Homo sapiens: one gene and its partners. The protein of the gene in region 1 purifies or fractionates together with the protein of each later gene. This does not show direct contact. Each region holds a gene or a part of one and is shown in the gene's direction. Other genes may lie near its edges.

Evidence for each region. The genes of interacting proteins can lie anywhere in the genome.
Region 2: the proteins of DEFA6 (region 1) and ZFPM1 purify together in Homo sapiens (affinity purification with mass spectrometry; 2 studies listed by BioGRID and IntAct, with this or other methods). This does not show direct contact.
Region 3: the proteins of DEFA6 (region 1) and RBPMS2 purify together in Homo sapiens (affinity purification with mass spectrometry; 2 studies listed by BioGRID and IntAct, with this or other methods). This does not show direct contact.
Region 4: the proteins of DEFA6 (region 1) and PZP purify together in Homo sapiens (affinity purification with mass spectrometry; 2 studies listed by BioGRID and IntAct, with this or other methods). This does not show direct contact.

The regions. Positions count from the first base shown.
Region 1 is NC_000008.11:6,924,197-6,927,332, reverse strand, and holds DEFA6 (defensin-6 preproprotein), read left to right. Parts: upstream 1-1,256; 5' UTR 1,257-1,297; coding exon 1,298-1,490; intron 1,491-2,405; coding exon 2,406-2,515; 3' UTR 2,516-2,636; downstream 2,637-3,136. UniProt on the Homo sapiens protein: Host-defense peptide that contributes to intestinal innate immunity and mediates homeostasis at mucosal surfaces by forming higher-order oligomers that capture bacteria and prevent microbial invasion of the epithelium.
Region 2 is NC_000016.10:88,459,780-88,463,279, forward strand, and holds part of ZFPM1 (zinc finger protein ZFPM1), read left to right. Parts: intron 1-3,500. UniProt on the Homo sapiens protein: Transcription regulator that plays an essential role in erythroid and megakaryocytic cell differentiation. Essential cofactor that acts via the formation of a heterodimer with transcription factors of the GATA family GATA1, GATA2 and GATA3.
Region 3 is NC_000015.10:64,741,991-64,744,589, reverse strand, and holds part of RBPMS2 (RNA-binding protein with multiple splicing 2), read left to right. Parts: intron 1-2,599.
Region 4 is NC_000012.12:9,205,596-9,209,730, reverse strand, and holds the start of PZP (pregnancy zone protein precursor), read left to right. Parts: upstream 1-1,335; 5' UTR 1,336-1,389; coding exon 1,390-1,472; intron 1,473-4,135. UniProt on the Homo sapiens protein: Is able to inhibit all four classes of proteinases by a unique 'trapping' mechanism. This protein has a peptide stretch, called the 'bait region' which contains specific cleavage sites for different proteinases.

The DNA.
Region 1 (3,136 bases):
AAAAAAAACAAAGTTGAAGACATCACAATTCCTGGTTTTAAATTATATTACAAAGCTACGGTAATCAAAACAATATGGTATTGGCATAAAACCAGACACATACCAGTGAAATAAAATTGAGAGTCCAGAAACACATCGAAACACATATGGTCAAGTAACTTTTGACAATGGCATGAAGAAGACACAATAGGGACAGGAGAGTCTCTTCAATAAATGGTGGTGGGAATACTATTTCCATATGCAAAACAATAAAACTGGACCCTTCTCTTTTGGCATATACAAAACTTAACTCAAAATGGATAAAATACCTGAATAGAAGACCAGAAACAAGAGACTATGAAAATAATGGTAGAGTTCTATATGTTTTGAGCTACAAAGTATTCAAATTACAGCATTAGGGAGAAAAAACAAAGCACAAACCAATGTTTAATTTTTAAGTGGAGATTTCCTGGAGCAGAGCTGCAGGGCTGGGGCAAGGATGGAGGCTCATTACTCCTTTTACCCTTTGAATGGTCCTTGTGGGCAATTCAACATTTTCTAAAATTAAAAATAAAATAAAATTTCAGAGGGGGATTGTGGGCATGTCAATTGTTTCGATGTTTCTCAAAGTGGAGAGAAATACCTAGTACATATTTTAGTTGATACATTCAGATCACATGGGTTTCTTGAAATAAATCTTTTGGCTTTAGTTTTACTAACTCTTTACCTAGTATCCCACTGAGTTCTTTTCCCTTATAGGCTGATAAGGTCATTATCTTCTCCACACTGTGCCCCACAAGAGCCTATTCACCCCATAATCTCAAAGCCTCCTTCATGAGGGCAGAAATGCCCCCTGAATCCTGCAATGAATTAACTCTCTACTCTAGCGGGATCCAGCTCTGGCCTCAAGGTCTAGACCTCCAGAGAGTGGCCAGCCCCACCTTCAGAAAATAAGAGGCATTTGATTCCTGAAATTATTCATTGAAAGCACTGTTCTTTTCTTTTTTGAATATTAACAAGTAAATATTCCAGCAGATGGAAAACAGGACAATGTAACACTGTTCTTATCATCACTATCAGCTGGGACCAGAACAGACACTCAATAAACAGCCTCACACTACAATGAAGCTTGGAGAACAAAGGAGCATCAAAGGGACATGGAGGGCAAGGGTAGCTCTTCTGCTCCCCAATCACATGCACTCCCCGTCTCACCGCAACATCTGTCCCTGAGCCTTCTCCCAGCAGACCTATAAATCCAGGCTGGCTCCTCACTCCCCACACATCTGCTCCTGCTCTCTCTCCTCCAGCGACCCTAGCCATGAGAACCCTCACCATCCTCACTGCTGTTCTCCTCGTGGCCCTCCAGGCCAAGGCTGAGCCACTCCAAGCTGAGGATGATCCACTGCAGGCAAAAGCTTATGAGGCTGATGCCCAGGAGCAGCGTGGGGCAAATGACCAGGACTTTGCCGTCTCCTTTGCAGAGGATGCAAGCTCAAGTCTTAGAGCTTTGGGTAAGAGACACCAGCATTGCAGAGCTAGGAGTGTAGAGAGGAAAACCAAGCACTTCTAGAATTAGATCCAACAGCTGGCTCTTTCTCTTAGGTGATCACCTCCCCAGGCCTCAATTACTTTATGTTTGTACTGAAAAGGAAGAATCAGTGATATTCAAGGCATGACTTTTCTCTAAAGATTTTTTAATTCTATGATAAGTCTATGAAATTTTCTAATTTTTTGCCATGTAGAAATGTATTGAGGAGTCTCTACTTCAAGGAAGAGAGCCTAATTTTAAAGGAATGTTTTGTTTTGCTTTGTTTTGTTTTGTTTTGTTTGATGGAGTCTCGCTCTGTCACCCAGGCTGGAGTGCAGTGGCACTATCTCAGATCACTGCAACCTCTGCCTCCTGGGTTCACGCAATTCTCTCCCTCAGCCTCCCAAGTCACTAGGATTACAGGCACCAGACACCAAGCCTGGCTAAATTTTGTATTTTTTTTTTTTTCAGTAGAGACGGGGTTTCACCATCTTGGCCAGGCTAGTCTTGAACTCCTGACCTTGTGATAAACCCACCTTGGCCTCCCAAAGTGCTGGGATTACAGGCGTAAGCCACCACATCCAGCTGCTAAAGGAATGTTTTTTAATCTGACTTTTATAGGAACCGTTGCAAACTGGAGACAGTCATATGGGTGCATTCAGATGTGTGTGTGACAGGGAAGGAGCAGATAAGTACAGCATATCAGAATGGCTCTCTAATCCTGTGTGTGACCAACACTGCTCTGCGTATTTATTCCTATTGATGGTGTGATCATGCTATTGGCTGTAATGCAGCCAGCATTACATGTCAGCAAGCATGCAACTTCCTGAAGATTCTCTTTACTGCCCGCTGCTGACCCTGGTGCTCAATTTCTGATGCTCTCTCTCTCTGTCCCCAGGCTCAACAAGGGCTTTCACTTGCCATTGCAGAAGGTCCTGTTATTCAACAGAATATTCCTATGGGACCTGCACTGTCATGGGTATTAACCACAGATTCTGCTGCCTCTGAGGGATGAGAACAGAGAGAAATATATTCATAATTTACTTTATGACCTAGAAGGAAACTGTCGTGTGTCCTATACATTGCCATCAACTTTGTTTCCTCATCTCAAATAAAGTCCTTTCAGCAAGTTCTTTTGTGTTTGTGCTTTTCTGGTGTTTGATAATTCAGGATTCTTCAGATGCAAAAACAAAAACCCAAGTCGTATCTCAGAACACTAGCTCTTCGAAAGAGTTTTCTATGTAGACCAGAGAAGTGGTAGAGAGGATGTTGAGAGAAGAGAGGATTTGGGTTTTTTGTTTTTTTGTTTTTTGCTTTCTGAGATGGAGTCTCGCTCTGTTGCCCAGGCTGCAGTGCAGTGGCACAATCTTGGCTCACTGAAACCTCTACCTCCTGGGTTCAAGTGATTCTCCTGCCTCAGCCTCCCAAGTAGCTGGGATTACAGGTATCCACCACCACGCCAAGTAATTTTTGTATTTTTAGTAGAGACAGGGTTTCACTATGTTGACCAGGCTGGTCTCGAACTCCTGACCTCAAGTGATCCGCCCACCTCGGCCTCCCAAAGTGCTGGGATTACAGGCATGAGCCACCGCACGTGGCCTTAGGCACTCTGTTTTAATGTTAATGCTG
Region 2 (3,500 bases), on another chromosome or scaffold:
CCTCCTCCTCCCCCTCTTCCTCCCCCTCTTCCCCTTCATGGTCAATCACTTGGGTGAGATCTGTGGTTTCCAGCTTATCTGAGATGGAGCAATCCCTCTTCCCAAGCTGTCTCCCAGGACAGCCCAGCATGTGAAACACACAGGGGCCCTGCCTTGGAAGGGCCCCTCAACCCTGCTGCTCACATAGCTCACTGCGCTGGCCCCAGGTTCCAGGTCAGGGCAGCCCCTGACACCCACCCTCTAGCTGGCTGGCCCTTCCCTCCAGCGCATCCCGACTCCCCAGGCTGTGTGGCCTTGGCATACTCTTGCCCTCTTGGGCTGGGGCTTCCCTTTGGCGAAGGCAGCGAGGAGGGGCTGAGATGATGCTCCTGCCTGTGCCTGTCCACCTCCCCACCCGGCTCTGGGAGGGTCTGGACCAAGCCAAGCCAGAGGGGTTTTGGGTCCAGGCAGCCAAGCGAGAGGCCCAGGGTTTATCGAGGGTCCCCAGCCTACTGTTGGCAGGGCCCGGAGAGCAGTGGGCTGCTCTCAGCCTGGGAAGGTGGGTCAGGAGGAGTGGGGTTCTTCACAGGAAGGCACACTGGCAGTTCCTGGGGAGCTGCCTGCCATCTTTCTGGGCCCAGGCAGTGTCATGGTGGCGGCCCTCCCTGCCTCGGTTGGTTCAATGGGCATACCCATTTTTCAGATGAGGATGAAAAGGTCCTAAGGGGCCAGGACTCAAGTCCTGCCCTGGTGCGAGGAAGAAACAGGGGAGATGGTCTGGTCCTGCCCTCTGCCCAACACCAGCCTTCATGTTTAGCACGTGGCACTGACTTAAGGACCCCAGAGTGAGGATGGAGGGTGTGGCTCTCAGCCAGGTGGCCTCAGCCAATGCCCACCTTAGAGACTCCGCTTTAGAGTGGGAATAACAGGGTCCCTCCTATCCGAGCTGTGTTGGGTAGTCTAACAGGGCTGGTATACAGTAGGTGCTTAAATAGCAGCTGTTTGGAGCAGACCCCTGGTCCCGCGTCAGGAAGAGGACCTGACTTATTCATGCCGGGTGACATGGTGCTCCTACTCCCGTGGGCCTCGGCCTCCCAGCTGTTCATGGGGCCACTGGGCAGGCTAAGGACTGAGGGATGGGAGGCCTGGTGAGGACCGAGGGGCGGGGCGGGAGGCCTGGTGATGACCGAGGGGCGGGGCGGGAGGCCTGGTGAGGACCGAGGGGAGGGGCGGGAGGCCTGGTGAGGACCGAGGGGTGGGGCGGGAGGCCTGGTGAGGACCGAGGGGCGGGAGGCCCTGGTGAGGACCCAGGGGCAGAAGGTCTGGTGAGGACCAAGGGGCAGGAGGCCCTGGTGAGGACCCAGGGATGGGGCGGGAGACCTGGTGAGGACCGAGGGGCGGGAGACCTGGTGAGGACCGAGGGGCGGGGCGGGAGGCCTGGTGAGGACCCAGGGGCGGGAGGCCTGGTGAGGACCCAGGGGTGGGGCGGGAGGCCCTGGTGAGGACCGACGGGTGCGAGGCCTGGTGAGGACCAGGATGCTTGCTGGGGAGTCCCCAGGTTCCCACCCCATCCCCACCGCAGGGGCTTTGCCCCGCCACCTGGGCTGCACCCTCAGGGCTCCGGGTGGTTGCCGGCCTTCAGCTCTGGAGAGGGAGGTGACCAGTCTGGGGACCGCTTCGGACAACAGCGCAACCTCACGTCCTGGCCTGGCCTTGCTGTGACCCTTTGGCCAGTGGCTGTATCTGGGGCCTCTGTTTCTCTCTTGAAGGAGGAGCTTGATGAGAACACCTCCTTCCCGGCTGTTGTGTGGGGTGCAGGCTGGGAAGGGCTGTCCTAGGGACACGTCTGTGAGGGACTTTGCTGCCTCTGGAGCTGCCGGTTGCATTATTGATATTTTGCCAAAAGCCCTGAGGGTTGGACGTTAAGCAGAGTCCCGCTGGCCCTCCCCTCCTTCAGGCGTTAGGTTTTGAAGGGAGGAGGGACTCTGCCTGAGTGTGCCACGCCCTGGACTGGGCTGGCCTCACACCCCAGCCCCGGCTGTCCTCTTCTTGCCCGGAGATCTGACCCACTGCTAAGATCATCGTTGGCACTGGCCAACCCATTTTACAGGAGAGAAACGGAGGCCCTGGAGGCGTGACATGTGTGAGGTTATGTGACGTGGGAGCTGGGGCCGTGGACCCTGGGGGTGGGCCCAGGTTTCTCTGGGCACTGCCCACTCAGCACCCCCAGGCCACCAGCCCTACTGCATCGGCCGGCGGCCTCCCCATCTCCTCCTCCCTCCCCAGCTGCCTTGTGTTTTGGGGGAAGGCAGTGGTCCTGCTGAGGCAGGAATGTGGTGGCTGATCTTGGGCAGAGCCGCGTGAGCAGATAAGCAGGCCCCTCCCCTCAGCCTCCTGTGCCTCCGTCTGCTTCCCCAGCTTCCCCTGGGCTGCTGGCTGTGGTCTTGGGAGCCTCAGCTTCCCCGGCTGTGAAATGGGTGTTGGGGGCTGGTGGGCAGCTTCCGAGAGCTCAGGCCCTGACTCCCCTGGTTCCCTCAGTTCCCCACCTGGAGCTGAAGTGAGCCCGGCGTGCTGAGGGCTCCTGTCTGCTAAGTGCCTTACGGGCATCCCCGTTCTGCCCTTCTCCAGACACCACTTAGCTTTGGGTTCTCCACCCATTTCGCACGTGAGAAAATCGGGGGTCAGAGAGGGTGGGTGGCTGCGCTAGAGTCTCACAGCACACAGTGGTGCTCTGGCTGTGGAGGCAGCGGCAGGGCAGGGTGACCCTGCTGTGCCTAGGACCTGCATGGCTGCCTGTGCCTAGGACCTCCTGGACTGTCAGGGGTGTGGCTTCCTGAGAAGGAGAGGGCAGCCACCGCGGGCTTCCGGGTTGTTCCGGGAGCTTCCCTGTGGGCCGCCATGGTTGGAATCCTGGAGTGGAGAATCCTAGACCCTCTGTCATTATAGGGAGGTTACCTTGCTTCTCCAAGCCTCAGTCTCCATCTCTGCAAAGTGGGGGTATCGTAAGGCACCAGGCTGGGCTCCAGGGTTGCCCGGTCTTCGTGCAAGTCACTCAGCCACCCTGAGCCTCAGTTTCCCCACTATAAAATGGAGCAGTGATGCTCACCTCACGGGGCTGTGAGGAGCGATGCCACCCAACACGGGAGGTGCAGCCCGGGCCAGGGCCCCCTGTGGTCTGTAACAAAATCCACACAAACAGGGCAGGGGCCCCCCTCCCCTCCCCAGGTTGCTGACGTCCCTCAGGTGTCTCTGTCACGGCTGGCCTTGCGTGGGCCCACTCCTTCCCACTTCCTTCTGGGCACCTGCACCCATCACCGCCTCCTGCCCCAACTTCCCTTTTTTCCATCAAGCTCCCACTTCCCAAGTCAGACCCAGGGAGCAGGAGCGGAGGAGGCCCCAGGGCCAGGTGGTCGTGGCTCCTTCCCGAAGTGATGCATGAGGAAAGACCTGCTGGGTAGTCCTCCGGGGACAGGGGACAGGGCCTCACGGTTGATGGCGCATCTATCCTGGACATCCTCAGC
Region 3 (2,599 bases), on another chromosome or scaffold:
TTGTTTTCTTTCTTTCTTTTTTTTTTTTTTTGAGACAGAGTTTCACTCTTGTTGCCCAGGCTGGAGTGCAATGGTGTGATCTTAGCTCACCTCAACCTCCGCCTCCCAGGTTCAAGTGATTCTTCTGCCTCAGCCTCCCTAGTAGCTGGGATTACAGGCATGTACCACCACGCCCAGCTGATTTTGTATTTTTAGTAGAGATGGGGTTTCTCCGTGTTGGTCAGGCTGGTCTCGAACTCTCGACCTCAGGTGATCCGTCCGCCTCGGCCTCCCAAAGTGCTGGGATTACAGGCATGAGCCACCGCGCCCAGCCATTGTTTTGTTTTCTTTATGATAAATTCCTAGAACTATGACACGGTGAAAGTGTAGACTTACCAGTCTGGGTTAAATGTTTTAATTTCGGATAAGTGAGGCTTCCATATCTTTGGTTGTTTATATCTTTTTTTTTTCCTTTCTCTTTTTTTAGTTATTTTTATTTTTTTGAGACAGAGTCTCACTCCGTTGCCCAGGCTAGAGTGCAGTGGCATGACCTTTGCTCTTTGCAACCTCTGCCTCCTGGGCTCAAGCACGATCCTCCTGCCTCAGCCTCCCAAATTGCTGGGATTACAGGTGTGTGCTACCACGCCCAGCTAATTTTTGTATTTTTTTGCAGAGACGGGGTTTCGTAATGGTGGCCATGCTGGTCTCAAACTTCTGGGCTCAAGAGATCCGCCCACCTCTGCCTCCTAGAGTGCTGGGATTACAGGCGTGAGCTGTCACACCTGGCCTTATATTTATTCTTATGTAGGTTCATCCCGTTGCTTGCTTTCTGGTGTATCTTCTCAACTGGTCAGTCCCAGGATCTGAGAGACGGCTGAGTTTGCATCCTCCGCTCTTTGTTTTGAAGCAGCCCTCTCGGAACCTGGTCACTATAGCCTGTGGGGGGTACTCTCAGGAGCCCCCCCCCCCCTGGGCACAACTGGAGGCCCTGAAAGGACACTGCGGGTGCCCTGTCTTGCTGGCCTGGCCCCCTGGGGGTCTCCTGTAGCTGGAGCAGAAAGAAGAGCTCTAGGAAGGGATTGTGTGGCTTCTAGAGGACCCAGGCCACTGGCCTATGCCAGGCACCCGGAGGAAGCGGAAAAGCAGCCCTTCTAAATGCATTCCGTCTGCTTCAGTGGCACAGCTGTCCCAAGCCCAAATATGGGAGCTTTCCTCCACTTTCTCCCCAAGGAGTCCCTCAGGCTGGAGGGAAAGTCGCTGCTTGGGAAGCAGGAATCCCAGCACCTTGTAGCGAGAGTGTAGGGCAGGATCCAGCAGATATGCTGAGGGCGGCCTTAGGCAGTCATTCAAGGCCTTAGCTTCCCAGTGGTGAAAGAGGTTGGGTTGCAGGCCTCCTGAGCTCCTTCCATTCTGTCGTCCATGTTCTCCCCTTGTCCGGCCCTGCGGGACACCCAGCCCGTCCGGGATTTCCTTGCTGTGGGGCTGCCGGAGGCTACATGAAGGGCAGTGGTCAGGGCCCACTAAGGGGCTCCCTGAGCTGGTGCCAGCCGCCGGCTTCTCTGATAGCAGCATTGCTCGTTTCCTCGTGTGTCCCTCTCTTGTGGAATAAGTGCTAGTGTCCAGCCAGGTTTCTAACTTCCCGCTGAGCTCCTGGGATGTGGTGGCTGGAATTCTGCAGTGTACAAAACAGCACCTAGAATTTGGCGGGGATAGGAACGGGTTCTTAGGAAGCTTCCATCAGCCCCCAGACGGCCTGGCATGGCTTACCCAGGAAGCAGGAGTTCCCAGCAGCCAAGTGGGTAACTGGGTCTGCCTGCTCCAACCTCAAGGGAGCTGTCTGCAGGCCCAGCTTCTACTCCTTTCCTGCCACACGCTCATGTGCTGCCCCTTCCCTTCCTGAGGGGACTCCAGCTCCCCTCCCTGGATGCTCATCCCCCAACCGCAACTCAAGGTCCTGTGTTGTCCCGCTCCCCCCGCCACACCCCTTTCCCTGTCCTGGGTCAGGCTGGGACAGACATGCTTCACCGTGCATAACTGGGGCAGGCGGCCTTCCCTGCGGTCTTGGCAGTCAGCATACTTGCCTTCCAGATGACTGGCCCACAGGGAGGAGGGAACGTGCCATTTTCTTGACCAGTCTCTGGGAACCCAGCTTTGGGGCTACTGCTCTGTGGGGCCTTCTGGCAAGTGCCAGGGTTTAGGCAACTTCCAGGCACTGGTGAGGATGATCTCAGATAGCTGCCGCCCACCTGACGTTATAGACCTCTGGACTTAGAGGCTTGTGATGGAGGGCATGGCACAGCAGGGGTGGGAAGGTCAAAACGGGAGCCTCAGCTGGGTCTCATCCATGGCTTCTCAGAAGAATCAGGACTGATGTTGGAGAGTCCTACCCCTTGGGGTCTACACGGACTTTGGGTTTTGTTTTGTTTTTTGTTTTTGTTTTTGTTGGAGACGGAGTTTTGTTCTTGTTGCCCAGGCGGGAGTGCAATGGCGCGATCTCAACTCACTGCAACCTCCGCCTCCCGGGTTCGAGCGATTCTCCTTGCCTCAGCCTCCCGAGTAGCTGGGATTACAGGCATGCACCACTACGCCCGGCTAATTTGTATTTTTAGTAGAGATGGGG
Region 4 (4,135 bases), on another chromosome or scaffold:
TACATATCAACTTCCTAATCCCACAACATTGGAAGGGAAATGAGATTGGAGAGAATTACAAAGGAAACTCCAACCATATTTGTCTTGATTTATTTCTTTTTTTGGGTTGGTGGATCTGGTAAAAACTGGAAAAGCTTCTAGACAAATTTTAAAAGAGCACTACCATTGCCATCTTTCATTTCTTAAGAAGAAATGACCTTAAACAAACTTGGCAAGTGTTTAATTTTATTAAAGTTGGGTGCATGTAAGGTACGAGTGTCTTTTATCTTGCTCTCTATATTTGTGAGTATATATATATATAACATTTCATAATTTAAAAGAAATTATTTCATTCTATGATAATGTGACAAAAGAAACAAAGATGTGAAATAAAAACTAATAGGAAGGAATCCACTTTCAGCAGTGTGGCCAGGAATTTGCTCTCCAAAGAAGGGATGATTAGGCTGAAATATGGAGAAAGAGAAAGAAAGTTGATTTAAAAAGTTTCAAGCAATACAGTATGTAAACAGACACCAATGTCTGCAGTCTAAGGATGGCATTAAATCTGCTGGTGGTTTATATGTGATCATCATTGTACTACAAGTTCTATGAGAGCATGGATACTGAATATCCTGTTCAATATTGTATTTTCATCACCAGAATAGCACTTAGCACACAGTATGGCTCAAAAAAAAAATCTCAGATAAAGTCAATGACATGGTTTAAGGGACTCAAACGTTAGAGTGCTCAGACAGTAACAAGGACAGATAGGATCAACTAAGAATCTGATCAGGTCAATGCTGTGAAATAGACAAGTGTGATCTTTGATAACTCCTTTCTAAAATCTCTTTGATCTTTTATCTCTTTTATCTTTCATTGATCCTCTACTCTTGAAATCCTTATTTTATATCACTTTCTTCCAGGACCATGTACTCAATCAACTGCTAAAAAAGAAAACCCAAAAACCCTAAAGTCTATAGTTATAACTCACTCAGTCCCAGAAATGAATCTGCAATGCATGAGCTACTATCATGGTAACATGTCCCTGACATTCTTTGTCAGCATCCTTTGTCACCTGCTTGTAAGGATTTTGAAAGAGATGGAGAAAGGTAGGTTGAAGGTTCCTTATCAGGAGGTTTGCTGTCAAAGCTCATTCTAAATGGAATACAAATTTTATCTTCCAGACATGCCTCAGTACCTATCAGAATTTAGCCTTGAGAAAAATGAGGCAACCACTGAGAGTAATGACCCTTTTAGGGAATCTGTGCTCAATTCTGAACTCTATTCAGAGGCCTTGGGGTGGGGCTTGTTTGTACATAGTGGCCACATAAAGCCTGGTAAACTCAGCTGGTCTCCAGGGCGAGGCTGAGGGCAGAGAGTTGGACACAACCCTGAGATTTATCCCTCACAATGCGGAAAGACAGACTTCTTCATTTATGTCTTGTGCTACTTCTTATCCTGCTTTCTGCCAGTGACTCAAACTCTACAGAACCGTAAGTCTCACTCAAGACCCCTTCCTCCAGAGTGCGTTTCAGTCTCTCCCTTGTGTCTTCGCTTTGCCTTCCTTTGTAAATGCCACCTTTCCACTCATTACAATACCTTCCAAATATAAGAAATTATTCCAGTTAATCCCTTGTTTGTCTTTCATTTATCCTCTATTCTTGAAATCATTTTTTCTACACTGGGCCAATCAGAGTCATAAATACGATTAGTCACTAGGAAGCATGATTAAATAAAACACTAGATCCCAACTTCACAGAACAGTTCTTTTGGATGGAAGGCACTGAATATAGAGATATTCGAAATATATAGTGAAGTGCAACTTAACATGTATTGTAGGCCATATATATATATACAGAAAGTATAGCTCCTTTATTTTTCAATCATGTATCAAGTCTTCACCAACAGCCCCCAGTGGGGGACCAAAGCAGGGAAAATAATTTTAACCCTATCCAGTTGTAAGTTGGTACAACTCAATAATTGTAAGACTTCTTTTCCACCTCTCCCCAGTTCCTCTCCTCTATAGTGTCTAGAGAACTGTGGTCTCCATTAACTCCTAATAGAGAAAACTGTCAGAGTCCTTGGTCTCAAAGTTCTCCGTCCTTCTTGGCTACTGTCAGTCTGACTTCTCCTTACTTGCTGGCATGCACTGTTGAAGTTTAGCCATCTGGTTTCTCTTGTGTGTTCAGGACCCAACAGTCCTCTCTAACTGACTGTCTCACTTCAGCTGTTTCATATCCCATAGAACTCCTACCTTTGCATCCTGCCTCAAATACTATGGCTATTGTTTCAACACAGCCTGTGATGCAGGGTCACCTTGCCCCTTTGCAGTCCAGGCCATTTAAGGTCCCTGGCCTTAACCCAGCTGCCTTTACATTTCTTCCAGAGAATGGTGAGAACTCTTGGGTCCAATAATAGCACATAGGCACTGAGGTGTCCTGGAGAGGTTAAACTTCTACCTCTCTCTTGCATACCCACACTGCACTTCTAGATGCCTATCGTGTCTCCTGTATTCCAGACTGATACAGGGAAGTCTTCAGAGTCCCAAATCGGGAAAGGGATAAGGGGTCCCTCTGCTCTGTGTGTTACCCTTATCCATCTAACACAAATAGCCTTCTTCAGGCCAAAGCGCAGAAAGCAGAAATAAGGAGTTCAATCCAGTAAGTCTCCTGCTTTCCTCAGGCTTTTTCCTTGCACAATTTCCTGGCAACCGGTAGGGGTACATTTCTCCCCCACTATCCCTCTACCTCATCTACAGCAGTGGGCTCTACTACTTCCAGCTGCTCTCCATCCAGAAAGCATATGGGAATATGTGGAGGCTATTTTGCTTTCTGAGAGCAGACTGAATGGATAAAGCGAGTAGCGTGTATTGGGTCAGAAACATTAAGCAATTTGTGGTTCTGGATGCATTCCTACACTACATTGGACCATGCTGCCATTGAAACCATCCTTTTACGTTGTGTCTGCCACTGAACAAAGAACAACAAGCCTCATGCCCTAGTTGTCACAAGCAGAAGGGGTGTTTTCTCCCTTTATAAGGAGAAAACTTAACTTCATCCCTCCAGAATTAACCCTTGATGTGATAAATGTGAGAGACTACAAAAGAGAACCAATAGCCATTCTCCCCTGCCTTGGGGCAGTAAGCTTCAGAAAGATGAAGGTTTCAGGGGAATAAAATGAAAAAGAGAAAATTAAAAGTTATCACTTTAATATTTGCTACATTTAGTCCCTGCTAAAGAGGCAAATATTTAAAATGCAAACATTCATGATTGAGTAAACATATATTAAAACATTTTAGCAGCTCACTACCAATGACATCTTGGGCAAGTTTGTCAACCTGGATTTGTTCTGATTTCAATATCTGTTAAAAAAATATTAACTGAACTCATATAAAATAGTTCTTTAGAATATCAAATATATGTGGAATTAATTTTTAATCGTGATATCTTTTAGGCTTATAATTTATAAGAATAAAAATAGTAAATAAATTATAAATATATATATACCTTCTTATTAAGATCAAAGAACTAAAGGAAAAATTTTTTGATGGGGATGTAAAAAATGATACATTTTTATTATTTATTATGCTGTTAAAAGAGCAGTGATCAGGAGATCAGAAGCATCCAGATACCAGAAAAAGATTAAGACATAAGAGACTAGCTGAATGACTATCAGTGAGTTACTGAACTGCCCTCAGCTTCTCTGCTAGAGAACAAAACCTTACTACTCATACAGTAAAATCATCTGAAACTTGGATGATTTCAGAGTGGCCCTGGAGATTCATGGCATATAGTTTTGCCCAGGAACACTTTAAAACACATGTAGCAAGACTGGTGTGCTGGAGCAGACTACATGGAGGATGAGGGGACCAAATTTGAGTTCCACATTCCACAACTCAATTATCCTTGGATTCTCTCCTCCTAGTCTCACACCTATTAATTTTGTAAAGCAACAATATTGGGTTTCTTGTGTCAAATTGCCTGTCCAGAAAACAATTTAAAAAGTAAGAGTTTATGTTGGCAATGGAAAGTAAGGGTAGTAAAATAATATAAGAAAATAATAGTTTTTACTTGCAAATTTACTCTATAAATGGCCTAACCCTGCAGATATTGAATCATGAATCACTGAATCATTAAAGCTTTGAAGAGTTACATTT